7 linked regions of the Homo sapiens genome follow. The gene in region 5 interacts genetically with the main gene of each other region. Each region holds a gene or a part of one and is shown on either strand. Other genes may lie near its edges.

The links.
Region 1: changes in FASN (region 5) and GFPT1 together harm fitness more than expected from each alone (negative genetic interaction), as found in Homo sapiens cells (one large-scale study listed by BioGRID).
Region 2: changes in FASN (region 5) and DNAJC24 together harm fitness less than expected from each alone (positive genetic interaction), as found in Homo sapiens cells (one large-scale study listed by BioGRID).
Region 3: changes in FASN (region 5) and RPLP2 together harm fitness less than expected from each alone (positive genetic interaction), as found in Homo sapiens cells (one large-scale study listed by BioGRID).
Region 4: changes in FASN (region 5) and FLNA together harm fitness more than expected from each alone (negative genetic interaction), as found in Homo sapiens cells (one large-scale study listed by BioGRID).
Region 6: changes in FASN (region 5) and SLC39A8 together harm fitness more than expected from each alone (negative genetic interaction), as found in Homo sapiens cells (one large-scale study listed by BioGRID).
Region 7: changes in FASN (region 5) and CAMK2G together harm fitness less than expected from each alone (positive genetic interaction), as found in Homo sapiens cells (one large-scale study listed by BioGRID).

The regions. Positions count from the first base shown.
Region 1 is NC_000002.12:69,377,228-69,380,727, forward strand, and holds part of GFPT1 (glutamine--fructose-6-phosphate aminotransferase [isomerizing] 1), read right to left. Parts: intron 1-3,500.
Region 2 is NC_000011.10:31,414,860-31,418,359, reverse strand, and holds part of DNAJC24 (dnaJ homolog subfamily C member 24), read right to left. Parts: coding exon 3,411-3,500; intron 1-3,410. UniProt on the Homo sapiens protein: Stimulates the ATPase activity of several Hsp70-type chaperones. This ability is enhanced by iron-binding. The iron-bound form is redox-active and can function as electron carrier.
Region 3 is NC_000011.10:808,771-812,766, reverse strand, and holds the start of RPLP2 (large ribosomal subunit protein P2), read right to left. Parts: upstream 2,801-3,996; 5' UTR 2,728-2,800; intron 2,534-2,727; 5' UTR 2,533-2,533; coding exon 2,410-2,532; intron 1,171-2,409; coding exon 1,122-1,170; intron 1,087-1,121; exon of another isoform or gene 953-1,086; intron 233-952; coding exon 134-232; intron 8-133; coding exon 1-7. Other genes in the region: PIDD1 (p53-induced death domain-containing protein 1), read left to right, coding at 3,815-3,820. UniProt on the Homo sapiens protein: Plays an important role in the elongation step of protein synthesis.
Region 4 is NC_000023.11:154,357,635-154,361,134, forward strand, and holds part of FLNA (filamin-A), read right to left. Parts: intron 2,954-3,500; coding exon 2,356-2,953; intron 2,272-2,355; coding exon 2,098-2,271; intron 2,013-2,097; coding exon 1,850-2,012; intron 1,773-1,849; coding exon 1,612-1,772; intron 1,521-1,611; coding exon 1,350-1,520; intron 935-1,349; coding exon 811-934; intron 722-810; coding exon 565-721; intron 1-564. UniProt on the Homo sapiens protein: Promotes orthogonal branching of actin filaments and links actin filaments to membrane glycoproteins. Anchors various transmembrane proteins to the actin cytoskeleton and serves as a scaffold for a wide range of cytoplasmic signaling proteins.
Region 5 is NC_000017.11:82,088,237-82,091,736, forward strand, and holds part of FASN (fatty acid synthase), read right to left. Parts: intron 3,449-3,500; coding exon 2,986-3,448; intron 2,834-2,985; coding exon 2,646-2,833; intron 2,329-2,645; coding exon 2,139-2,328; intron 1,905-2,138; exon of another isoform or gene 1,724-1,904; intron 1,491-1,723; coding exon 1,396-1,490; intron 1,149-1,395; coding exon 1,014-1,148; intron 937-1,013; coding exon 733-936; intron 641-732; coding exon 525-640; intron 327-524; coding exon 154-326; intron 72-153; coding exon 1-71. UniProt on the Homo sapiens protein: Fatty acid synthetase is a multifunctional enzyme that catalyzes the de novo biosynthesis of long-chain saturated fatty acids starting from acetyl-CoA and malonyl-CoA in the presence of NADPH.
Region 6 is NC_000004.12:102,265,483-102,268,982, forward strand, and holds part of SLC39A8 (metal cation symporter ZIP8 isoform a precursor), read right to left. Parts: intron 2,598-3,500; coding exon 2,390-2,597; intron 2,193-2,389; coding exon 2,008-2,192; intron 1-2,007. UniProt on the Homo sapiens protein: Electroneutral divalent metal cation:bicarbonate symporter of the plasma membrane mediating the cellular uptake of zinc and manganese, two divalent metal cations important for development, tissue homeostasis and immunity.
Region 7 is NC_000010.11:73,843,556-73,847,055, forward strand, and holds part of CAMK2G (calcium/calmodulin-dependent protein kinase type II subunit gamma), read right to left. Parts: intron 1-3,500.

The sequences.
Region 1 (3,500 bases), on a different chromosome or scaffold from region 5:
GATTAAGTAATGCAATATTAAATTCACTGTTTTTAATAATGTAACTCAACAACAGCATTCAACTTTAATAATACTTCTAACTCCAATCTCCTTGGTTTATAATGGCTCACTATATGAATCTTGAGAGCTTAAGAACATTTTGGCTGGGCACAGTGGCTCACACCTGTAATCCCGACACTTTGGGAGGCCGAGGCGGGCGGATCACGAGGTCAGGAGTTCAAGACCAGCCTAACCAACATGGTGAAACCCCGTCTCTACTAAAAATAAAAATAAAAAAAAAAAAATAGCCAGCTGTGGTGGCACGTGCCTGTAGTCTCAGCTACTCGGGAGGCTGAGGCACGAGAATAGCTTGAACCTGGGAGGCAGAGGTTGCAGTGAACCTAGACTGCACCACTGCACTCCAGCCTGGGCAACAGAGCAAGACTCCGTCTCAAAAAAACAAACAAAGAAACAAACAAAAAAGTAACAGAGCTAGAAGAAGGAAGGGGATTAGCCTCAGACATACCTGATGAGGAAAATGGGAGCTAAGAAGTTGAACCTGTCAGTTTCATAGCCCTGTCCCTTGATAGCACTACTAGCCCAAGACATTCCACCTGCGGGGATACCGGGTTAACTGTAATCTTGGGGTGCCCGAGACAATACTGGCAGCAATTCATCAGGTACACAGGGCATGTTCACAAGGGAGGCATTCACAACTCACAATGATGCTTGTTAGAGCAGAAATCGTTAGTCTGACCTCTATTTTCAGGTCTTTGACTTGTCTTATCAAAACTCCCAATAAACAGTTTTTTGTTTTTTGTTTTTTTGAAACAGAGTCTCGCTTTGTCGCCAAGGCTGGCGCCATCTCAGCTCACTGCAACCTCCACCTCCCAGGTTCCAGCAATTCTCCTGCCTCAGCCTCCCAAGTAGCTGGAATTACAGTGGCCGCCGCCATGCCCGGCTAATTTTTTGTATTTTTAGTAGAGATGGGGTTTCGCCATGTTGGCTAGGCTGGTCTCGAACTCCTGACCTCAGGTGATCCACTCGCCTCAGCCTCCCAAAGTGCTAGGATTACAGGCATAAGCCACTGCACCCGGCCTAAACTCCCAATAAACAGTTCTTAAGTAAGGTAATGACAAAAGCCTAATATCAACTTTCCGCCACTCTTCAGTAATTGCTCTAAGAGCACACACAGTAGCTGTATAAGCATAGATTCTCTACCCCCAAATCAGCATGCACTTCACAAGTGTAAGCTTTCTTACTAATGGAATATACTTGGAATAAAATAACTCCATAACTGAAGCAGATGCTTGAACCTACAGGCATCATTCTCAATAAATGGCAACTTAAATTCAATGACAAAAAAGCAATTATGAGCACCTTGCTAACAAAATTTCAGAAGCAATCTGGATCACAGACTAGACACACCTGGTTGAAAGCAATGTAGCTGCAAATACAGACTGTTAAACCTTACTGAAAAGAAAACTGACTCGTCAAATTATTAAAATTCCTATGTCTGGTTGCATTTATGTCCTTATGAATACTAAATTTTATTTTTATATATTTTATCATTTGACAGCTGCAATATTTTGGGACCCTAAACATTGTAACTTATCAGTGATAAGTGTTCAAATTCATTCTCTAAACTTAAAACTTCTGAATCAAAATCTACCTACAATGTCACTTAAACTCTAAATTTTATTTTTCTTATAATGCTAGTCACAAATTAATTCATCACCATCATTAAAAATTCAAAGTAGGCCAGGAGCAGTGGCTCACATCTGTAATCCCAGCACTGTGGGAAGAGAGGCAGAGGTTACTTGAGCTCAGGAGTTCGAAACCAGCCAGGGCAACATACCAAGACCCTGTCTCTATTAAAATTTGAAATAAATAAATAAATATTAAAACTATACAGATGCTACAGAATTGTGAAAATCTCTCCTTTCTGTCTCCACACAGGTTCCAACCCCTTTCTCAGAGATAACTACTGTTATTCCCATACACACACTCCCAGTCCTTCAGCTATAAATTTTTCTACAGGCCAGGCACAGTAGCAGATACCTGTAATCCCAGCACTTTCGTAGGCCAAGGCGGGAGGATCATGGGCAGGAGTTTGAGATCAGCCTGGGCAATACAGGGAGACCCTGCCTCTACCAAAAATAAAAAATTAGGCATGGTGGTGCATGCCTGTAGTCCCAGATACTTGGAAGGCTGAGGTGAGAGAATCACTTGAGCCCAGGGGTTCAAGGTTGCAGTGAACTAGTCAATATTATAATTATGGAATCACATTCTACATTTAAGATTTCTTTAAAATTAAGTATTATTTGAGATACATTTTCTTTTTTCTTTTCACCAGGGGTCTGCTCTGTCGCCCAGGCTGGAGTACAGTGGCACAATCCCAGCTCATTAAAACCACCACCTCCTGGACTCAAGTGATCCCCTCATCTCAGCCTCCCAAGTAGCTGGGACCACAGGCACATGCTAATGTGCCTGTAATTTATTTATTTATTTACTTATTTATTTTTAATTTTTGAGATGGAGTTTTGCTCTTGTCGCCAAGGCTGGAGTATAGTGATGCGATCTTGGCTCACTGCAACCTGTCTCCCAGGTTCAAGCAATTCTCCTGCCTCAGCCTCTGGAGTAGCTGGGATTACAGACGTAAGCTACCACGCCCAGTTATTTTTTTATTTCTTGTAGAAATGAGGTCTTACTACATTGCCCAGGCTGGTCTCGAACTCCTGGACTCAAGCGATCCTCTTGTTTCGGCCTCCCAAAGTGCTGGGATTACAGGCATGAGCCAATGCATCCAGCCAAGGTACATCTTCTACAATCCTAAAAGCACATATAAAGGCCAGATGCCGTGGCTCACGCCTGTAATCCCAGCAATTTGGGAGGCTGAGGAGGGTGGATCACTTGAGGTCAGGAGTTCGAGATCAGCCTGGCCAACATGGTGAAACCCCGTCTCCATTAAAAATACAAAATTCCTAGCCAGGCATGGTGACGCGTGCCTGTCCCAGCTACTCAGGAGGCTGAGGCAGAAGAATCACTTGAGCCCAGGAGGTGGGGCAGAGGGTGAAGTGGGCCGAGATTGCGCCACTGCACTCCAGGCTGGGCGACACAGTGAGACTCTGTCTCAAAAAAATAAAAAATGTAAAAGTAAAATAAAATAAATCACACATACAAAAATAACATATGGAGTGAAACAATTAAGACTTTCAATTATTTGTGTGTTTAATTGGTTCATGTCTCCCCTACTTTACTGTAACTATTGCCACTAGAAGGGGCTCCATGACACGTCTCTTGCACATTTAACATTCTGGAGCTCAAATCACTAGTTAAGTCATGACATCTCTATACATTCCCTCACAGTCAACCTATGTCATCATCTTTCTTGAGAAAAAAAAGCATGTACTTCCTGCTCACAATCTTCAAATATTCCATCTCTCTCTCTTCTGACCATTCACATCAGACTACAATTTTTCATCATACTGCCAAGTCAAACCCTCTGGGTCCACTGTGCT
Region 2 (3,500 bases), on a different chromosome or scaffold from region 5:
CAAGATTTATAAAGGCAACAAAATCTACTCAACAGGTATTATTCATGTGAACATTTTATAAATCCTGAAAGGGTTTTCCAAAGTGCTACCTAAACAGTAGGTCAATCTCCATTTAAAATTGAAATGCAAAGCCTAATCTTGAAAAACTACATGCCTTTCAGGGGAACACTGGAAGCAGCCTTTGGAGGCATCCTCAGAAACAATAAGTTTAATATGCCAACTAGAACTAATTGATTAAATTCAGAGTTAACATTGCTTTCGAAATGTATAATCTCTGGGAACTAATTATTACTCATTCTTTTCTTAAATTTACTTTTCTTCAGCCTGGCCAACATTGCTCTAAAATGTCAACTAAGCATATAGAAGTAGGAATGAAGGAGAAAAAAACATACATGCAATACTTTGGGTTATCTGCCCTGGAGTATTACTTTTTCTTTATTGGAAAGAACACATATGATCATTTCTTTTGAGAAGCAAAGAAATATGGACGTCAAGTGTCCCTTTAAATTATCTTTTAGATAAATATATGGCTGTGGGCAATATTGATGAGGCTTTCCTTAAGACAGAGCACCAACATGGAGCTATGAAACACGAGAAAGCATTCAAGACCAGCCAATAAAGCATTTCCTACCTCCTTCCCAAGTACTAGAGAGCTCAATTTTATTTTATACTGCAAGTTAATGGTGGGCAGGAAACAAACATATTTAAAGCACACCCCTATGAAAAGAAAGGTTTACAATGAATTATCACCACATGTAAAAAGAGTTCTGTATAACAAAGCTATTTCCATGTCCCCAGGGGGTGACCCAGAAAAAAAGAGTGCTTTGACCTGGTTATAACAAACTCTCTCTCTCGGTAACCTATCCTGGTCTTTAACAAATTATTACTCTCAAAGGTTTTCCTTCTAGCAAACCTAAATCCTCACTTTTAGAGATGTTCAAGTTCATTTCCTTTTTTTGAGGAGCCATTTTACTGAAGCTGAGTCAAGAAGAAAAAATTAATAACGGTATTCAAAAGAAATAACAATATGAAAGTAGGTTTATTGTAAGAGTTTTGAAAAATAGCTCTGGTATGAAAGGCTTAAAAATAGCAAGTTATATTTGGATACTCTTCTTACCTAAACAGTATGTCAATCTCCATTTAAAATTGAAACAAAGTAGTGTCAGTATTTGGAGCCTCTGGTAAAAGAGGCAATACTTAGTACTTAAATCTGAGGTACTAAAGTGTCATGAAAAGCTGTCCTTCTAGAACAGCTAAATTCAGTAATATGCTGCCTGAAAAACTTGCAGAGCAAACTGATATTGTATAAATTCCAAACTATTTATCTGAATCATGAATCAGGTCCAACTCTCACAGTATTTACTTTGTCTAAACTTCATTGTGACTTCATCTATGACCTACAGGAGTACCCTGTGACACAGTAGGCCACAGGTGCTTCCATTAAGATCTTAAAAGTAGGACTCAAAGCTCAAAAGAAATCCGCAGTTCCAAGGACCTTTCGAAGACAATGAAAAAGGCATGAATATGATGATTATTTGTCTTCTGACATCTCTCAAATCTTTCTTCATGCAATTCTCTGCTAACTTTTAACCTGGTTTCCTATTTCTTTTGGTTTCTGGCCTACCCCACCCTGTAGCTTCTTGAGAAAATATTTTTATGATTCCTGATCCCTCCCTACCTCTTTAGAGAGCAGGCTTCTAGTCAACTTCACTAATATGTTCTTAATAGTACACAGGCTGTGGAGTGGCAAAAATGTAGAGCAACATTGAAAGTATATACCCTATACTCTTTAGGGTACAATGTCGTGTGAATTATTTTTATCTCAAGCAAACTGGCATCCTATATAGTAGAGACTAGTAAAGATGTGCAAAAACACCTGAAAGAATCATCATCTTCAGTAGAGCGTAGTGGCTTTAGGAATGTAGATTTCTTCTAACACACAACACATTCATGTGCATTAGTTTCAATTCTTTCATAGAAATCATGTGAACCAAGGTTAAAAAGATACACCAACGGGTAGAACTTATCATCAAACGAAGCCACTTCTACATTCTTTTGCAAAAAGTACAAACATGTTTAAAAAATAAATACATTAGACAGATGCTCATTATGCACCCAGCAAAAGCAGAACCCAATATTCAAGCCATTTTTGAAAATTAACCTTTGCTTTGAAAAGCAAAGGTACACCCATCAGGTTCTTAATATTTAAGAAAAAAATAAGCTCATCAGTCTTTTAAAAAGTAGTAAAGCCTTTGAGCTGATTAGTACTATAAATAAGTCACTCTTATAAACAAATACTCCAGTACATAAACAGTTCAAGTCTTTCCACACAGAAGTATCACACAGCCTATAAGAAACCTTAATTTTCTTGGTAGAAATCCCTCTGAAAATAAATAGGGATGTCTTGCAAATGTCACTGGCTTCATCTTATAATGCTGTGTTTTAAAAATAAAGGCTTGCTTCTCAAATCAAATTTTCATAACCTTAGTACTAACAAAGCCTCAGAATCATTTTGTGAGGTCTGATGGTGTGCCATTGTAGGGCATGGGAGGGGATTCAATAAGCGACTACGAGACAGCTTTTATCAACACATCCCAGTCAATGCTGAGCCTGATATGCTATTGGAGAGAGCGACTGAGTGTTTTCCCCACAGGCTGTAACTGATTATTGACTCCTCCCATTAGCATGTGGGGTGCATATTGAAGGTTCAAACACAAGGCTGAGGGACTCCTGTCCCTAGGCCAGTGCTGAAAGACAGCCTATCACTTCGTGTAACTGCAGTCCATGTGTGACAAACCTGACCTACATTTCCCTCTTTCTTTCTCATAACAGCTTGTCACTGTTTTAAAAAGCTATTTTCTAAAAAGCATAAAAGAAATGACTTTTAAAATTGCTTAGGTAATGTGCATTCCTAAAATATCATTTATACCAATCACAAGGAATAGTTTATCATGAAGATAATCATGAAACCCAGCCTAAAATGAGCTCAAAGACAGCAGAGTGCTTTATGATGTCATCTGATATATAGTATCTTCATTTGGATTGTCATTTATACTGTATAGTCTTAAAAGTACAATTAAAATGTTAATCCATATTTATTTTAATAAAAAGTTTTTAAACATATAAAGCATATTAGTTAGTAATGTGTAATTAAACATTTTTCAAATGTTATAAAAAGTAGCTTTCAAGGCTTCACAAGAAGCCACATCCTAGTAGTTTTGTTAACTTCTCAATGGATACACAATAGTCACTGCTAAGAATAGGGCATAATTAAAAACAGTGATGGAGGGGAGGAATAAAGGCAACAATAACACTTGGTGCAAATGCTGGAAAATGCTCCCCAGGAATGGCTGCAGAGTGTGCTTCTAAGAGTTGCCGATGTGCTGTGGCTCCTCAACACAAGCACCTACCACACCGCTGCAGGTCATACTCTCTTTTTGTCTCTTCATTTCCTAGAATTTTCCATGCTTGATCAATTTCGATGAACTTCTGTACACATT
Region 3 (3,996 bases), on a different chromosome or scaffold from region 5:
TCCTCTGCTGTGGAACAGAGGAGAGGCATGGTGAGCACTGCCCAAGTGCCAGGCCAGTCCCCCCATGAAGACCCCACTGCAGCAACACCGTCTGAGCCCCAGCCCCTTGCCCACTCACCAGGCCACCACTTACCTGCAGCAGGGGCAGAACCAGCAGCAGGGGCTGCAGAGCCTGGGGCAGCAGAGACGGCTACAGCCCCACCAGCAGGTACACTGGCAAGCTTGCCAATACCTACAGAAAGCAGAGAGGTGAGACCAGAGCAGCTGCCCAGCCTGGGAGGCTGTTCCACAGGGAAGTTAGATGGCACCAGAGATGGCACATGGCACCCAACATATCTGGACCCACCATATGCCAGTGTCTCCCGTTCTTCCTGAACACTCCCTCCCTGAGCCACTCCTCAACGGGGACTTCTCTTCCCCACCTTTCCTATCCAGGGACTTGCCTTCTAGGAATTAGGCCCACACTGCCTGCCTGCCCAATTTCCCCACCTCCACCCTCAGAGGTCCACTGGACAGACATGTTCATAACTAGGTAGGGAATGAGTGTGCTGCCCCAGTATCCACATCTCTGGCCACAACGCTGTGTTCATGGCTTGGCCCGTTTGCTGAGCTGGCCCTGTCGTGGTCACATGCATGGAAGACAAGAACAGCTGCCCCAACAGCTCAACTTCCAAACAAGTTCCACCAGCTCAGCTGAAGCCAACAAAAAACCATCTGCCCAACAAAGAGGCAAGGAGCCTATGGACATCCCTGGCACCCTCAGTCCCTGCCCCCAACCCCCTCACAGAAAGCATGTGGTAAGGACTGCTGACGTGAACTCAGTTCTCCAGACACCAAGCTTCAGACAAATCCTGGGGAATGGCCTCAGGGCTAGGAGCAGTCAGGCTTAAGAGGCAGGGCCACCTAAACGTCTGCTGAGAACACAGGGTGCCCCCTGCTGCCCTGCTCCTGAGAGTGTCTAGAAGTGCCCATGACGTGAGCCCACTGGAGCCCTGCTCACTCCTCGGGTGAGGCTTCTAGGGTGCTCTGGTCCACAAGCGAAACCTGGCAGGCCACAGATGGACCGGCAGGGATTAGGATGGACCATGAAAACAAACGAAAGCCCGTCCACATCAACTCACCCTGGGCAATGACGTCTTCAATGTTTTTTCCATTCAGCTCACTGATAACCTGAAGCAGACAATCACAGGGCTGTTACCAGGAATGTACGATTGTATCCCCGGCCCTCTCCCTCCCAGAGTCACAGCAGGACTGGGTTCCCCACATGGGAATAGGCCCTGAAGTTTCCAGAACTGCACTGCCCAAAGGGAGCCACCAGCCTCACTTGGGAAGTGATATAAAAATAAATGGACACTAGCTTTCTTAGACTTAGGACTGACAAAAGGACACAGGGCATCTCACTACTTATGTTGACTACTCATAGGTATCTTCAACACTGGCAAAATAAACTGGCAATGAAATTGACTTTGACTTCAGGCTGGAGTGCAGTGGTAGGATCTCACTGCAGCCTTGACCTCCCGGGCTCAAGTGACTATCCCACCTCAGTCTGGGACTACAGGCATGAGCAACCAAGCCTGGCTAATTTTTTATTGTATTTTAGAGACGAGGCCTGGTTCTGTTAGACTGCAGTGGCACAATCACTACTCAGTGCAGCCTTGACCTCTAAGGCTCAAATGATTCTCCCGCATCAGCCTCATGAGTAGCTGAGACTACAGATGTGCACCACTGCCTCCAACCATTTTTTTTTTTTTTTTTTTTTGTGGAGACCGGGTCTTGCAATGTTTTCCAGACCAGTCTCGAACTTCAAGGCTCCAATAATCCACTCGCCATGGCCTCCCAAAGCCGGGTGAGCCATGCGCCAGGACTGCTTTTTTTTTTTTTTAACGCAATCTTACGCAGCTCACTGGTATTAAACTTCCAAAGCTTGTTAATCACGATTTTGCCTCGTACCCACCCTGCTTTTTTTTTTTTTTTTCCTTTTGAGACAGGGTCTCCTTCTGCCACCCAGACTGGAGTACAGTGGCACGATCCGTGCAACCTCCATCTCCCGGGTTCGAGCGATTTTCCTGCCTCAGCCTCCCAAGTAGGGGGACTACAGGCACCCACCACCACGCCCGGCTAATTTTTGTATTTTTAGTAGGGATGGGGTTTCGACATGTTTACCAGGCTGGTCTCGAACCCCTGACCTCAGGTGATCCGCCTGCCTCGTCCTCCCAAAGTACTGGGACTACAGGCGTGAGCCACCGCGCCCGACCTCCGCCCGGCTTACTTCTCTATCCAAGAAATCGCCAACTAGACTGAAACGAGCCTCTCCCCGAACCCTCCAGCATGTGGCCGGATCAGGCAGAAGAATCGCCTGTATGGGACACTGGGGCCCCACGGCGGCTGCGGGGCAAGGGCGGCCGCTACCTTGTTGAGCCGGTCGTCGTCCGCCTCGATACCCACGCTGTCCAAGATCTTCTTGATGTCCTTGGCGCTGGGGGAGGAGTTGCCCCCTAGGGCAGCCAGCAGGTAGGAGGCGACGTAGCGCATCCTGAGGCGGGCGGAGAGGACGCGACGGCGGAGTTACCCCGGCGGCCTCCTGCCGGCCCATCCCGGGGCCGCCGGGCGAGGCCGCGCGTGGCTCGGCCCGTAGGCCTCCGTCCCAAAAATACCCCGCCGCCCACCCCGCATCCCCACGGACTCCGCGTCCCCAGCCGGCACCCCGGGCCCGGTCACCACACTCACGCGGCGGCGTCTGCGGCGGAGGCGGCGGAGAAGTCTCACGCGTGCGACCTCGGTGGCGACAGGGAGGAAAAGGAAGGCGCCGACGCAAGAGGCGGGGTTAAACCGCTACCCAGAAGGCTCTGGGACCCGTGCGCGGCGCCGCATGAGGCGCCTCAGAGTGACGTCACGAGGCGCTCAGCCAATGACGACGGGGAGGGAGTCGTTGACTCCTTCCCCCTCCCCCTTCCCAGCCCCCGTCAGGCACTTTTCGCGGCAAAGGCGAAGGGCAGCAGTTCCGGAAGTGACTGCTCTTATAGCGTGGGGCGAAGGGCCACCGAAACTCGTGGGGGCGTTGGACGAAGCGAGTCCAAAGGGACGGCATCTGCCTTCGGTACCTAGCACCCCCAGCATGCCACGCGGCGCCTACAGCTCCCAACATGGAGCGCGGCCGCCACGCCCGGGACTCAACCTTTGCCAGCGAACTGCAAGTCCCATGGTGCACCGCTGCCGGAAGTGGCCTGCGCCGCGGGCCTACCCGGAACGGCGCGTGGGCCCGGGCAGAAGCTGCTGGCGGTAGGCTCGCCTTGACTCCTTGGTGGTTCCCTGGCCGCGGCGACCGGTGGTCCCACGTCCAGCCGGGCTCAGTGAGGTGAGCCAGCCGCCTCGGACTTAGCGACTGCGGCCCTATCTGGGAGGCCGCCCCCGCACTGCGGTGTCAGGGCATCCTGTCAGAGGACGAGCGCGGGCCTTGGAGGGCAGGACAATGACGTGAGGCAGCGTCGCCCGCTCACCCCTGCGAGGAGTGAGGTCTGAGTGGTCAGCCCCTGCGCTGGCCGCTTTGGCCCGGAACTGACCTCGGTGTCCATGTGGACATCAGCACCTCAGGGACCCCGCTACATTCTCGGGTCCTGGGAGGGAACAGGGTTGGCCCTGCCTCCTAAGGACTTGAGTTCTTGTGCGAGGACGCAGGAGGTGAATAGGGAGGCGATCCGAAGGACAGGGACAGAGGGAGACTTGGTCCTCTGGGCAGCCTGAGAAAGCTTGAGCTGAGAGATGAGAAGGAGCCATCCCTGCCAATATCCCGGGCGAGCACCAGGAACAGGGTCAGATGCAGGTATCTACCGTGTTAGCAGGCAGCGCCAGCTCCCGTTGGGCTCTAACAGCAGTGCAAACCCTGGGGTGTGTATACGTCAAGCACTGGAACTCGACTTCACAGTCGCCTTCTGTGGCCTCGTTATCATTACCCCCATTTTATAGATGAGGCAGTTGGGTACAGAAAGGTTTTTTTGC
Region 4 (3,500 bases), on a different chromosome or scaffold from region 5:
AGGCAGGGGAGGCAGTTGGCCCAAGCCCGAGTAGCCCCGGGCCTGCCTCAGGCGCTCCCAGAGTGCCCAGCGCTGCTGCTACAGGGACAGTCTCTGGGCCTCAGGCATCTTAACTGCTATGGCCCAAAAGGGCTGCCTGCACCTGGCAGAGTCCAGAATGGAGACTAAAACATCCCACACTTCCCACATGACAACAGGCGCGGCCAGCCAGCTTGGCACCCATCCTCAGCCCCAGGGCCTGGCCAGCACTAGGAGGAGCTCACCGGGGTGATCTCAAGCTTCTATCCTATACCTGCCCCATGAGAATATTACAGGTGGGGAAACTGAGGCACAGAAGGCTTTGGTGACGTGCTCAAAGTTAGCAGCAAGTGCACGTCTGGGGAAGCCTGTGCCTGTCACCACCATCCTAAGGTAGTCACAACCTTAGCAAACCAAAGACAGGGGCCCTGTCCTTCCCTGCCCTCCTTGGTGCAGCTCCGCAGGGAGATCAGACACCAGCCACCCGCAGCCCACACTCCAGCCGCCCAGGCCCCCCTGCCTCCCCTGCCTGTGCCCGGAGCTCACCGTGATCTGGACAGCCAGCAGGCCCTCCCCGGCGTCCTTTGCATCGATGGTGAACTCCACGGGCAGGCTGGCAGGCACGCCAGTGGTGTTGAGCCCGGGGCCACTGGCCTTCACCTTGCTGGCATCATGAGTAGGCAGCACCTTGACCTTGAAGGGGCTGTGAGGGATTGGTGTTGTGAGCAGTCAGACAGGTTCTCAGCATCCAGCCTGGGCCACTCCCCACAGGCAGCAGGCCCTGCCTCTTACCTCCGGGGTACCTCTTCATCTCCATACAGTACTGAGATGCTGTAGGGCCCTTCTCGGCTGGGCACATAATTGACGGTCTGGGTGCCATCAGCGTTGTCTACCACGTCCACTGGCTCCACCAGGCCTGGCCCCAGCCCCAGGGACAGAGCATCAGCTAGTCTCCTGGGCCTCCATTCCTACCCCACCACACTGGACGGCCAGGACCCAGCCCCAGGCCTAGACCTCGCTTTATCCTCATCCACCCGACCCTGGGAATGGCCTTGACCCCCTCTGGCACGAAAGACACCCATCTGGGTGCCAGCTGGGACCCTTGCCTGCCTGCCTTCCTGCCACATCTGCTCAGTGACCAGTCCCATCTGCTCTACCTCCTCCAAGTCCCCCACCTGGCTGCACTGTCACCTGAGGCTCTTCCAAAAACACCTACACACTTGCACCACCTCTGCACTCTGGTCCTCACTTTGGGCCTCCAGTTTCCTTTCCCGGCCCTCAAACAGGACACTGCCCTCCTGACCCCTGGCTCCAGGCATGCAAACACTCACCTTTGGGCCCTTGCACTTTGACCTGCAATGGGGCCACACCAGCCTTGCTTGTGTCCACCTGGAAGGACTGAGGGAGGTTGGCACGAACCATGCCTGGGCTCAGGCCGGGCCCAGAGCACTTGACCTTGGACGCATCTGTCACATCATGCACAGGGACCTTGAAAGGACTGCCTGAGGGTTGGGGCAAAGGGATGGCGGCTGTATGAGACAGGGTGGGGACGAGCAGACAGTCCCAGCCCTGCCCTGGCCGCCACCTCCTCACCTGGCACTTGATGGCCACCATAGGTGACGTTGAGGCTGTAGGTGCCAGCCTCATAAGGGATGTACTCGACCGAGCAGCTGCCGTCCTTGTTATCCATGCAGGACATCTTGGCCTCGGAGGGGCCCTCTACAGCCAGGCCCAGGCCGCCCGTGCCAGCTCCCCTGGTCCAAACAGACAGCCGGTCATTCCTGGGGTTCCCAGGCCCACCAGCCACACGGGCTCCTGGGGGCTCCCTTACCTGGTCTCCACAGTGAACTTGTTGGGCTTGTTGGTGGTGCCACTTTGGATGCCTGGCCCGTGGACACGCACCCGGGAGGGGTCGCAGCCCTCGGTCACGGGCACCTGGAAGGGGCTGCTGGGCACGGGACTGCCGTCATAGGTCACGTCCACGGAGTGCAGTCCTGGAGGAGTGCAGGCCAGGTCAGGAGGAGCCCGGGCCACCCCACCCACCCCGTCTGCCAGCCTGTGGGAGTCCCCAGCACGCACCCTCCTCGTAAGGCGTGTACTCCACTTTGTACATGCCATCGCCACGGTCCTGAACGTAGGTCTCCGTCAGGTTGCCTGAGGGGTTGGCCACACGGGCCTTGACGTGCGGCCCTCCGGTCTGTGTCAGAGCCCGGGCGTCCACACTGAACTCAGTGGTGGCCTCACGGAAGACACCTGCAAAGGCACAGAGAGGAGGCTTGGGGCTCGGGGGTTCTGGTCCCTGTCCCCCGTCACATACCCCACGGCAGGGCAACTCACCCTGGCCCTCAATACCAGGCCCATAGCACTGGACACCGGAAGTGTCCACCGCAGGTTCCACCTGCAGCTTGCTGGGGAAGTTGGGCACGGGCTGGCCGCCGTACTTGATGGTGACGGTGTAGGCCCCGGGGCAGAGGGGAATGTAGGTAATGGTGTGCGTGCCATCACCGTGGTCCTGGATGTACACCTCGGCCGGAAGCCCCGCCTCCGAGCAGATCTCAATGGTCAGCTCCGCGCTGCCCGCGCTCGAGCAGTCCACTTGGAATTGGCCCACCTCCCCAGCGGTGGCCCGCTCCAGCCCGGGGCCTGAGCACTTGACTTTGGATGCGTCAAAGCAGGGAACCACGTGGGCCTTGAATGGGGAGCCAGGGATGTGGGTGTCAGCGAAGAGGATGTTGATGTTGTAGTCCCCGGGCTCGGTGGGCACGTAGGACACGGAACATGTGCCATCCCCATTGTCCAAGCACTCGAGCTGCGCCTCACAGGGGCCCTCCACCGTCAGGCCCAGGCCACCTGTGCCGGCGCCCTTGGTGTCGATGGTGAAGCGGGCGGGGGAGCCCGCACTGCCTCCCTGCAGCCCCGGCCCAAACGCCTTCACCTGAGGGAAGAAGGGGTCAGGAGCCAAGGCCACACTATGCCCCGATCCCAGACCTCCTGCTTGACTTTCCACCTGCCTCCCCTTGCCCTGGCTTCCTGCCCTCACCAAACAGGGACACGGGCGGGCCCAGGCTGCCTGCCAGATGGGCCATCCATCAGTCATAAGGACAAAAAGGAGGGCAGGGCGCGGTCACTCACGCCTGTAATCTCAGCCCTTTGGGAGGCCAAGGTGGGTGGATCACCTGAGGTCAGGAGTTTGAGAACAGCCTGGCCAACATGGTGAAATCTCGTCTCTACTAAAATTACCAAAATTAGCTGGGCATGGTGGCGGGCACCTGTAATCCCAGCTACTTGGGAGGCTGAGGCAGGAGTATTGCTTGAAGCCAGGAGGCGGAGGGTGCCGTGAGCCAATATCGCGCCACTGCACTCCAGCCTGGGCGACAGAGTGAGACTCTTTCTCAAAAAAAAAAAAAAAAAAAAAAAAAAAAAAAAAGAAAGAAAAAAAAAAAAAAGAAATTCTTCAACCCTGATGACTTTTTGTGGGTTTC
Region 5 (3,500 bases):
GGCGGGGAAGAGGACGCGACCGTCGAGGGTGTGGTCCACCAGGTAGTGGTCAGGAGACTCGGAGCTGGTGTCTGCGGGAGGGCACAGGCCTCAGCACAGAGCGGGCGTCTGTGGGGAGGGAAGAGTCTGCCCACCCGCCGGGCCCCTGCTCACCGATGTTGTAGATGGCGGCTGAGGGGGAACCTGAACCGTTGGGGAAGTCCTCGGCGGCCGGCACGTCCCAGGCCAGGCTGTGGTCCCACTTGATGAGTGGGGAGATGAGGGGAGTTCCTCGGGGAGCTGGGAACTCCACAGGTGGGAACAAGGCATTGGGGTTGGCGTCGATGCTACGGAGAAGGGAGGCATGGGTAGCACACCCGTCACCGGGGTCCAGGGGCTCTGGGTTCAGCCCACCCACTGCCTGCGGTGGACCATCCAGGGCTGCTGCCACCGGCCTGGGTCAGTGAGGGGCCCGCAGCCCCGCTCACCCACCCCACGCCGTCCCCGACTCCGGGAGACGAGACCCGGGCTGGGAAGGGACCCACCCTGAGAGGTGCAGCCTGCCGATGCCGGCCAGGAAGAACTCCAGGTTGTCCCTGTGATCCTTCTTCATCAGGGGGATGATGGTGCAGCTCGGCTTCAGGCCACGCTTCAGGACAGCCTGGGGGCGGCAGGGCAGGTGGGCTCTCTTGGTGCTCAGCTGAGGCGCCCATCCCAGGCTCCCGGCGCCTGCTGCCCCCAGGCTGGGCCTACCTGCAGCAGGGCGTGGGGCGCGATCTCCAGCACCACCGCGTGCTCAGGCACGTGCCACAGGGCCTCCTGGAACAGCACAGGGCTCACCAGGTTGTTGACATTGTACTCGGCGGAGGACGTGCGTGCCAGGCTGCTGTGCCACTGGGCCTCGGGGATAGAGGTGCTGAGCCAGCGGGCTGAACGTGGCTTCGGCTCCCGGATCACCTGCATGAGGGGCCAGGTCAGTGCTGGGTTGTGGGTCCCCTGGCCCGCCCCGCACCCCCCAGGCCGTATTAGTCCACCTTCTTGAGCTCCTGCAGCAGTGGGGGTGCGATGGCCTCCATGAAGTAGGAGTGGAAGGCCATACCGCCGGTCCGCACCTCCTTGGCAAACACACCCTCCTTCCTCAGCTGCTCCACGAACTCAAACACCGGGGCCTGGACATCGTGGGAGCCTGGATAAGCATCCTGGCTGGGCACCCACCTCAGGCTCGGAGAGGTAGGGCGCACCCACCTCACCCCAAGGGAACCGAGAGGGAATGGGCAAGGGACCTGAGGACAAACCTGCCCCATGCCCCAGGCCCGTCAGAGCTTGGTGGGGCGTAGACCGTGGCCGCGTGTCCCTGCCAGACTTGCAATGGCAGGCGCAGGGGACAGAGGAGCCCGCCCAGGCCGCAGCACCCACCTGAGGTCCCGAGATGGTGACTGTGTCCTTGGAGTTGTGGCAGGCGGGCACCACGCCCGGGGGGCAGCGCTGTTTACACTCCTCCCAGGACAAGCCTATGGCAGAGCCAGCCTCAGAGGCTTAGCGTGGACACCGAGCCGCTCCCAGCCACCCACCCACCCAGACACTGCCTGCAGCTGGGGGCAGTAATGACAAGTGTGGTAATGGCAGCCTTGGAGCCTTCATGAGAAAGGTTCGCCCCCTGCTGTGTTTGACCCGTGGGTGGAGGTGTCATTACAGAGCTGCCACTCCAGGGGCAGCTCCTGGGAGCCCAGTCCCCAGATGGTGGCCCCCTCAGTCCTCTGCAGCCAAGGTTCTTTCCAGGTCCTGCCCACATGTGGCCCATGGGGCTCAGAGATGGGTGCCAACAGAGGGCACCAGTCTGAGGGAACCCTGATGACCCGTGTGTTGGCTTCACCAGAGCCCCTGGGTTCTTGCTATGCTGCAGCTGTGTGCTCATCACACGGGGGCTCCACGCAGGCCTGATGCCCATGGACACGTGCCTAGGCCCAAGGCTGCCAGGTGTGGGGCCAGTGGGGCAGCTGCAGGGGACTCGCGCACGGCTGTGTCCGAGCTGGGTGTCCCCGGGCCAGCGGGGGCCACTCTATCCTACGGGGGCCAGGCCAGGGCTGCAGGTGAGGACCCCACAGCGAGAAGGCAGCCTCCTTTCTTGGAGGTGCTGGGGGCCCCTCCGGGAGACCTACCCACGGCTGCCATGGCGCCCGGCGGGAGATGGGCTTCTTTGATGCACTGTCCCCTCCAGTAGGCAGCGAGGACGGCCTCCTCCTGGGACAGGCAGCCGTCGGCGTAGCCACAGGCCACCTCCCCCAGGGAGTGGCCGACGATGCCATCTGGCCTCAGCCCCATGCAGCTCAGCAGGTCTATGAGGCCTATCTGGGGTGGGAACAGGACACTCAGGTTGCAACCTCCAGCAGGTGCAGCTGTTGGGGGCGGCCCCCGGCCCCACTAGGCCATCTCCACCCCCGCGCCCCATCGACCCTCCCAGGTCTCCTGATAGGAAAGAAGCCCCTATGGCCCCCACACAGCCCCACTGAGACCCCTCCTCCCCTCCCGTCCTGCCCCCAGCACAAGGCTCTGCCTAGCAAAGGGGCTGTCAGGGGCCCCGGACTCAACACTGCAGCTCCTGGGCTCCAGGGAAAGCCAGAGCCCTGGGGCTGGCGTTGCTCACACGCTGGCAGGCTGGGCCCTACCTGGATGGCAGTCAGGCTCACAAACGAATGGACGATGTCATCAAAGGTGCTCTCGTCTGTGCTCAGCAGCAGCTGTGACACCTTCAGGCCGAATGGCTTCACAGCCTCATCGGAGCGTAGGATGGAATCTCGGAAGCGGTCCAGGCGCATGAGGCTCAGCCCCATCCCGCGCCACTGTGTGCCCATCCCTGTCCCAGAGAGCACGTCACGAGGCTCAGCCCCATCCCGTGCCACTGTGTGCCCATCCCCGTCCCAGAGAGCACCTCAGGGGACCACCAGCTCCAGTTCGCCTGCCTTTCCCCAGGGAAGGGACCACCTTGGGGGCAGAGTGTGGGCTCACCAGAGCAGATGAACCAGAGCGGGCGCTCGCCAGCGGGCACCTGCTGCACCTCTGGGCCACCGCGCTCACCACCCAGCACAGCGTAGCCACGGAAGGGCATGGCGGTGGCGGGGACAGCCGCGATGTCGTTCAGCATGCTCAGGAAAGCCAGGTCCTGGCTGTGCCGGAGGCCCTGCTCCAGCAGCTTCTGCACGGCCTCAGGGGTGCGTCCGCTGGCCCGCAGCAGACGGGGCAGGGTGGCATGTGGGGCGGGTGCGGGGGGCGGCTGCGTGTTGGGCCTCAGGATGATGTGCACGTTGGAGCCCCCGAAGCCAAAGGAGTTGATGCCCACGTTGCCGCCACGGACGGGCAGGGGCTGGTCCACCACCTGCAGCCGCCCATCCAACAGCGCTGGGATCTCAGGGTTGGGGCTATGGAAGTGCAGGTTGGGGGCCCAGAGCCCGTGCTCCAGGGACAGCAGCACCTGCGGGGGTACGTGGTGGATGGGCAGCCGCCCCACTCCCTCTACCACTGCC
Region 6 (3,500 bases), on a different chromosome or scaffold from region 5:
TAAAAATTAACAAAATGTGACAGAGACAGGAAATAAGCCCATGCTATTCAAAAAATGGCACTGACAGATTTGCTTGAGGCAGGGTTGCCAAAAACTTTCAATGTGCAAAAAACCTAGCATTTACAAAGTGCATCAAAGCAATGTGCAATAAAACAAGGTGCTCCTGTAATAGAATGCTGGGAGGGGTGGTATGATCATTTACTTTGGATGTTTAAAGGTTTTAGTACTGATAGCTTAATAGGAATATCTAGTTCTTTCAGGCATCAACAAGAGTAAAAGTACTGAAGTAGTATTTTTCTCCAACTGAATCAATCAGTGGGATGGAATTTACCTCATTTTATGTTCTCTTTCTCCTTTTCCATTACCTGCTCTCTATGCTTCACCCAACCCATTCTTTCATGACCTCAAGTTTACCCAGCAAAATCTTCACATCTACCATCACCTGTACCAGAACTTGTATTTCTCTAATTTTTCAGTGGACTAAATCCTTCACGTTTTACCTTATATCTTGCTAAAACACTTTTGCTAGCTAATCCTAGTTTATTCTAGATTCCTTTATTATCATCTCTCATCATATATTCTACTTTCTCTCTTATTTCATAGCATTTTTTATTATTTGTAATTATTTAGTCATCTGTGTGATTTTTTGTTGTTTAATTTAAGGATCCCCTCTTTCTAGAGGAAAAGCCCCATGAATGGAAAAGCCCCTTGAACTGTGCCTATTTTGCTCACTCCAGGATGAGTATTATTTCTTAGTATTATTTCTTTAAACTGAACAACTCTAGTAAGATTCCATTCTTATATCAGAAAGTAAAATGACTATAAGATAGCATGAGACATTAATTTTGTGACAAAAGTTATAAATGTAGCATTGGTTCTAAGAGATGAAATCCTTGCTCTTCTGAGGGTCTGCAGAGAACAACGAACAGAGCTAGACAAATATAATTTGGAGGTAAGAATGCAAATAAAAAACTCAAATTATTAAATTATGTATGTAATACATCCAGTTCCAAATGCAAAAGAAATAGTCCTTGATTTTCATACACTACCATATTATCATTTTATAGAAAGATTTCCATGATTTATTTTAAAATGCACAGGATATTCTCTCTCTTACACACACACATGCACACTCTTTTTTTTTTAGATGGAGTCTCGTTCTGTCGTCAGGCTGGAGTACAGTGGCACAATCTCGGCTCACAGCAACCTCTGCCTCCCGGGTTCAAGCAATTCTCCTGCCTCAGACTCCCGAGTAGCTGGGATTACAGGCGCCCGCCACCACGCCCGGCTAATTTTTGTAGTTTCAGTAGAGACAGGGTTTCACCATGTTGGCCAGGATGGTCTAGATCTCTTGACCTTGTGATCCGCCCGCCTCGGCCTCCCAAAGTGCTGGGATTACAGGCATGAGCCACCGCACCCGGCCATGCACGCTCTTTTGAGCACAAACACACACATACACACAGATACAAAGACACAGACATTGAACAGATATAAATATATACTATGTCAAATAACTATTGTCAAAATTTTACCAATTTTAGTGTACCAGTTTTAGTTTAACCCAAAAAGCTGTCACTGTTTAGAACTTTGAAATAACAAAATGCTATTTACTCTAATAAGTTATTCCTCTTCCAAATGTGGCATAGACACAAAAGAGGGAGAAAAAGGAGAAAAAGTCCTATAGGGACATACTATAACATAAGACAAGATGTACCAACCACAAGGGGAATAGAGATAGAGGAAAATATCTCTATTTCAGCAAAAACAAATCATTTCACCTTCAAACAATACGATTATGTTTTAAAGAACCAGTGAGGATCAGTTTCAAATTACTATTAGTGTAAACTACTCAAGTAGAATGATCTGTTGAAATGGGATTGTTCTGAATTACAACAGAAAGGCCTTCCACACTGCGGAAAGCAGAAGGCCACCCTTAGTTAACTTATAATCCAGATACTCATTTCCAAATTTTAAATTAAAAGAAAATACAAATTTTAAGCTTCTTACCATATCTGCCAGAGAAATATAGAGGAACATGCCTCCAGCAAGTGCAAATATAATATTTGGAGCGAAATTGTTGCCCACCAAAATGCCAAAAGCTAGCCCAACATAGCAGGAACATGCAGAAAGGAAGTTGAATAGCAAGGCTTGTCGAGTGCTCATCCCTGCATTGAGTAGGATCACAAAGTCTCCTAGAAGAAGAAGAAGAAAATATCAAGTGAATAGTTTTTTTTTTATTTCTGGATGATATCAAAGATAATCATCAATGTCCAACAAGGTCTTCATTTTAGTGCATCAGAAGGATTTTAAGAGCATGTCACCTGAAAAGTCTCATTCCACTGAAATCAAGAAGTAAGCAGACTTTTACAATATGAACAGAGCTCCTTACCTAACTCGTGGGGAAACTCCTCACATAGGATTGCTATGGAAGTACTGAGTCCCTGAAGGAGAGACAAGGTGCAGGAAGCCCCAATCGCCAGGCCATCGATGAAATTGTGGAGGGCATCGCAGAGCGTTATCATCCAGGCAATCGTCCCTATTTCTGACAGTTTGGGCCCCTTCAAACAGGTACATGAACTTGGCTCTTTTTTTCCATCCTAGCAGAAAATCAATTAAAATGATAACCAACATTTCTTGAAAGTCTCAGAAATACAGACAAGTTGGAGATGGGTTGTGCTTGAGAAAAACAAATTGTTCCAACAGAAAGTCTTTTAGAGTAACTAGGAAACCCTAATAATATATAACAGAGCAAAGAAAACTTATGGTTGAGAGAAAGGAAATTCATCAACTGACACACCTCGAATAAGCCACTAACAGATATTTTCCTTTACTTTCCCTTTAAAACAATTCTTTTGACTTGTATAAACTTCTTCCTACTGCCTTTCTAAAATGTAGCAGATATTAACCTAAGAAATTTATTTATACACAAGATTTAAAATGAAGGAAGTTATTCAAAGACTAAACTTAAAGTCTTTTTTATGTTACAATTTAAATGTGAAATCCACAACTAGAGCATGATGAATGACATCAGCAACATTTGTTCTAACCCCTCCTATGCCACCATGTGACAGGGAGCAAGTTATCACAGAGTTCCTTCAACTGTGAAATGAAGACATTGTACTAAATGATTCATTTATTTATCAACAACTTATTGAGTTTCCATTCTGTTCCAGGTACCCTGTGGAGGGTTTAGGCTGTAACAATATGGTCTCTACCAGCTCCAAAGCTTAATTATTTTCTTAACAAATTGCATGAAGTGTAAATGGAACAGGCTAGCCTTTACACTAACACTTCCTTTCATGTAGAAACAATTAAAAAATAGAAAATCCTGTGATGGACTCTTTGTAGGAATTTAGATTTCCAGAAAATTTACAAAATTGTACAAAATCAAATGACAAATGCCAACTAAAACACTTTCCAGAAGTTGTAGAAAAAGATAAAATGCAAATTCATTTTTAAGTACAAAAGCACTTTGCAATTAACTGGAGAACATTTTATTC
Region 7 (3,500 bases), on a different chromosome or scaffold from region 5:
CAAAAATGACCCCAGAACAGAATATTTCCCCCATTCTTGGGTGCCTGTTTCAGGTTGCTTGCCCTCTCCCCTTGCTGTTGCTGTCTTCACCAGCCTGTCAGAAAAACAAATCCTGGCACCTGCAGCCAGGTGCCCACCAACACTACGGGGCCTCCTCGCATCCTTTCCCTCACCCTTGGCCCACTCTTTCCAGGTCCGGAGGCAACTCTCCCCACCTTCTCTACCTTCCCCAAGTCTCTCATTTTACCTCCTCCTCGGTGTAAATTTCTCCAAAAGCAAAATGAGAGGTCATCAGCAAGAACCCCTTTCAGCTCAGACTTCCACTCACAAGCCGATCTTCACCTGCCTCCACACTAATAGAAGTCTCAGGGGGATCATGGTCATCCCCGGGATGGACCCCCTGCCCTTGGCTCAGGAGCCCCCTCTCTTTTTCTGCTGTCCAAACCTTTGCTTCCTCAATTAGCAAGGATCTTCAACTCTTTCCTCTGGACTAGATTCTTCTCTATAGATTATAGTTAAGCCTCTCCTTAAACAAAAAAATTTTTTTTTTTTTTTGAAACAGCATCTCACTCTGTTGCCCAGGCTGGAGTGCAGTAGCACAATAATGGCTTACTGCAACCTCCACCTCTCTAGGCTCAGGTGATCCTCTCATCTCAGCCTCCCAAGTAGCTAAGGCACGTTACCACAACCAGCTAATTTTTAAAGTTTTTTTTTTTGTAGAGATGGGGTTTTGCCATGTTGCCCAGGCTGGTCTCAAACTTCCGGGCTCAAGTGATCTACCTACCCTGGTCTCCCAAAGTGCTGGGACTACAGGTGTGAGCCACCGCTCCTGACCAATATAATCTTTAAAAAGAAATTTTTTCTTCTTTAGAGGCAGAGTCTCCCTCTGTCACCCAGGCTGGAATGCAGTGTCATTATCTTGGCTCACTGCAACCTCCACCTCCTGGGTTCTAGTGATTCTCATGCCTCAGCCTCCCAAGTAGCTGGGATTATAGGTGTGTACCAACATACCCAGCTAATTTTTTGTATTTTTAGTAGAGATGGAGTTTCACTATGTTGGCCAGGCTGGTCTTGAACTCGTGGCCTCAAGTGATCGCCTGCCTTGGTCTCCCAAAGTGCTGGGATTACAGGTGTGAGCCTTACATTAAAAGCTCCCCTGGCCCATCTTAATCTAAGTATCACCATTTATTTCCCACCTCAATGCCTAGCTCCCCATGCCCCTCCTCACCCTCACTCCCTCTTCGTCTCACTGAAAACAGGGTTTCATCTTTCTCTCCACTGTCTCAGTGAAATGATGAAACAATGGCATCTAATGGTCAGAGCCAGGGGATTCTTCCCCAACTTAATCAGGGACTCTTCTGCATCTGATTCCTGACGCTCCCTTACTGAGACCCCCTGTTTCTTAGCTTCTGGGTCTTCTGGAAGGTCTCACTCTCAGTGCTCTTTGCTGGGCCCCCTAACTCTCCCTATCATTAAATGCTGGTGTGTAGTGGCCGTCTCTTCTCTACTACAGCCAATAGAAGCTCACCGTAAGAACTCAACCAGCATAGGAACAGGCCCATCTACAGCATAGGAAGAGGCTATTTCTACAGCCTCACTACCAACTACACAGAAATGACTACAATGTGGATTTCCAATTTTTAGCTTCTTTTCTAATCTCTAGGACCATATTTCTAACCACCCACTGAATGTGTCTGGCTGGAGGTTGCCAGACTCAGCAGGCACAAAATGAAAACCATCATCTTGGCCGGGCGCAGTGGCTCATGCCTGTAATCTCAGCACTTTGGGAAGCCGAGGCGGGTGGATCATGAGATCAGGAGATCGAAACCATCCTGACTAACACGGTGAAACCCCATCTCTACTAAAAATACAAAAAATTAGCCGGGCGTGGTGGCGGGCACCTGTAGTCCCAGCTACTCGGGAGGCTGAGGCAGGAGAATGGCATGAACCCGGGAGGCAGAGCTTGCAGTGAGACCGCGCCACTGCACTCCAGCCTGGGCGACAGAGCGAGACTCCATCTCAAAAAAAAAAAAAAAAAGAGAAAACCATCGTCTTGTCTCACAAACAAGCTCCTCCTCTGGTTTTCTTCTGGGTCAGTGAGGGTACAACTCTCCGCTCAACTTGAAACCTGGCCTCTCTCTTCTTTGCTCCCCCCAAATCCAACTGGAGAGAATTAAATCCTTTAGGTTCTCTCAAATATCTCTTGAATTTCAACACACTGCACATTCCCCCATCCTTACCCTCTGCTGAGACCTCACCTGGTCTTGCTTAGACTATTCCAACTATTAAAAAAGCTTCCTGAGCTCTCTGTCTCCAGCCCTTTTCTTTTAAAAATTTTCAATTCCCTTCTTTTTTTTTTTTTTTTTTTAAAGAGGTGGGGTCTGACCATCTTTCCCAGGCTGGAGTACAATGACTATTCACAGGTGCAATCATAGCTCGCTGCAGCCTCAAACTCCTGGGCTTATGATCCTCCTGCCTCAGCATCCCCAGCAGCTGAGACTACAGGCACATGCCACCATGCCTGGCAATTCATTTCCTCACAACTTCCAAAGTGTTCTTAAATGCAAATTTCATTCTTCTTTAAAACCCTTAAATGATTCCCTATGTTTTCAGAATAAAATCCAAACTCCTGAGGCAGAAACTTGTATGTCAGGGAATCTTTTGCCCCATTCTCTTGCATTCTGATATTTGCAGCCTCATCGACAACCAAACAACTCAACATTCCTTCAACTCACCATAGTTTCCCATAACCTCTCACTGTGCTAAACTCTGTCTGCAGGTTAACGTTCTGAGGACCTCGTTATTTGCCAAGAACAAGCACAGGGGTGTCACCTCCTCCGTGCAGCCTTCAGTAACCCCACCACCCACCAGGAACAGTAGGAGCTCCTGTACTCTCATTAGATTCTTGTACCTACTTGTCACATTGTAACATGACTGCCTGTTTGAGTGCCTGTCTCCCTAGATGATCTTTTGGGGCAGGGACCATGCCTCATTCATCTTTGTATCTCCAGCACCCAGACGGTAACCAGCACCAAAGAGGTATTTAATAAACACAGAATGGACAGATAAATAATGCCTCGTGGTTGTCAAGATGCCTAACTCTACCAAATCCTCTTCTTTGTCTGAAAGTTGATATTTCAGCTTGAAAGAATTGTGTATAAAAACAGAGTACGTCAACCCACACTGATAGCCTAGAGGACTCTCCTAGGACTTTAGCGCAGAAGCTTTATGCCTCAGCTTTTATGCTTTTAATGACTCAGAAACCCCTTCTGTTGATTTGTTGGATCTTGGTCACCACTCCAGTGGAGTTGAGATCTGAGTATGAACCCCAGCTTGGGAATTCACTTTGGGTTTTGCCAGCTGCTTTCTATCACCGGCTACCTGGAGTCCACAAGGGTCAACCTGAGCCCTCATCCAAGAACAGAACCAATCCCAGCCTGACAGCCATGAGTGGGGGAGAGAGGAGCAGTGGCCCACCAGCCCCATCAGCCTCCCGAGTC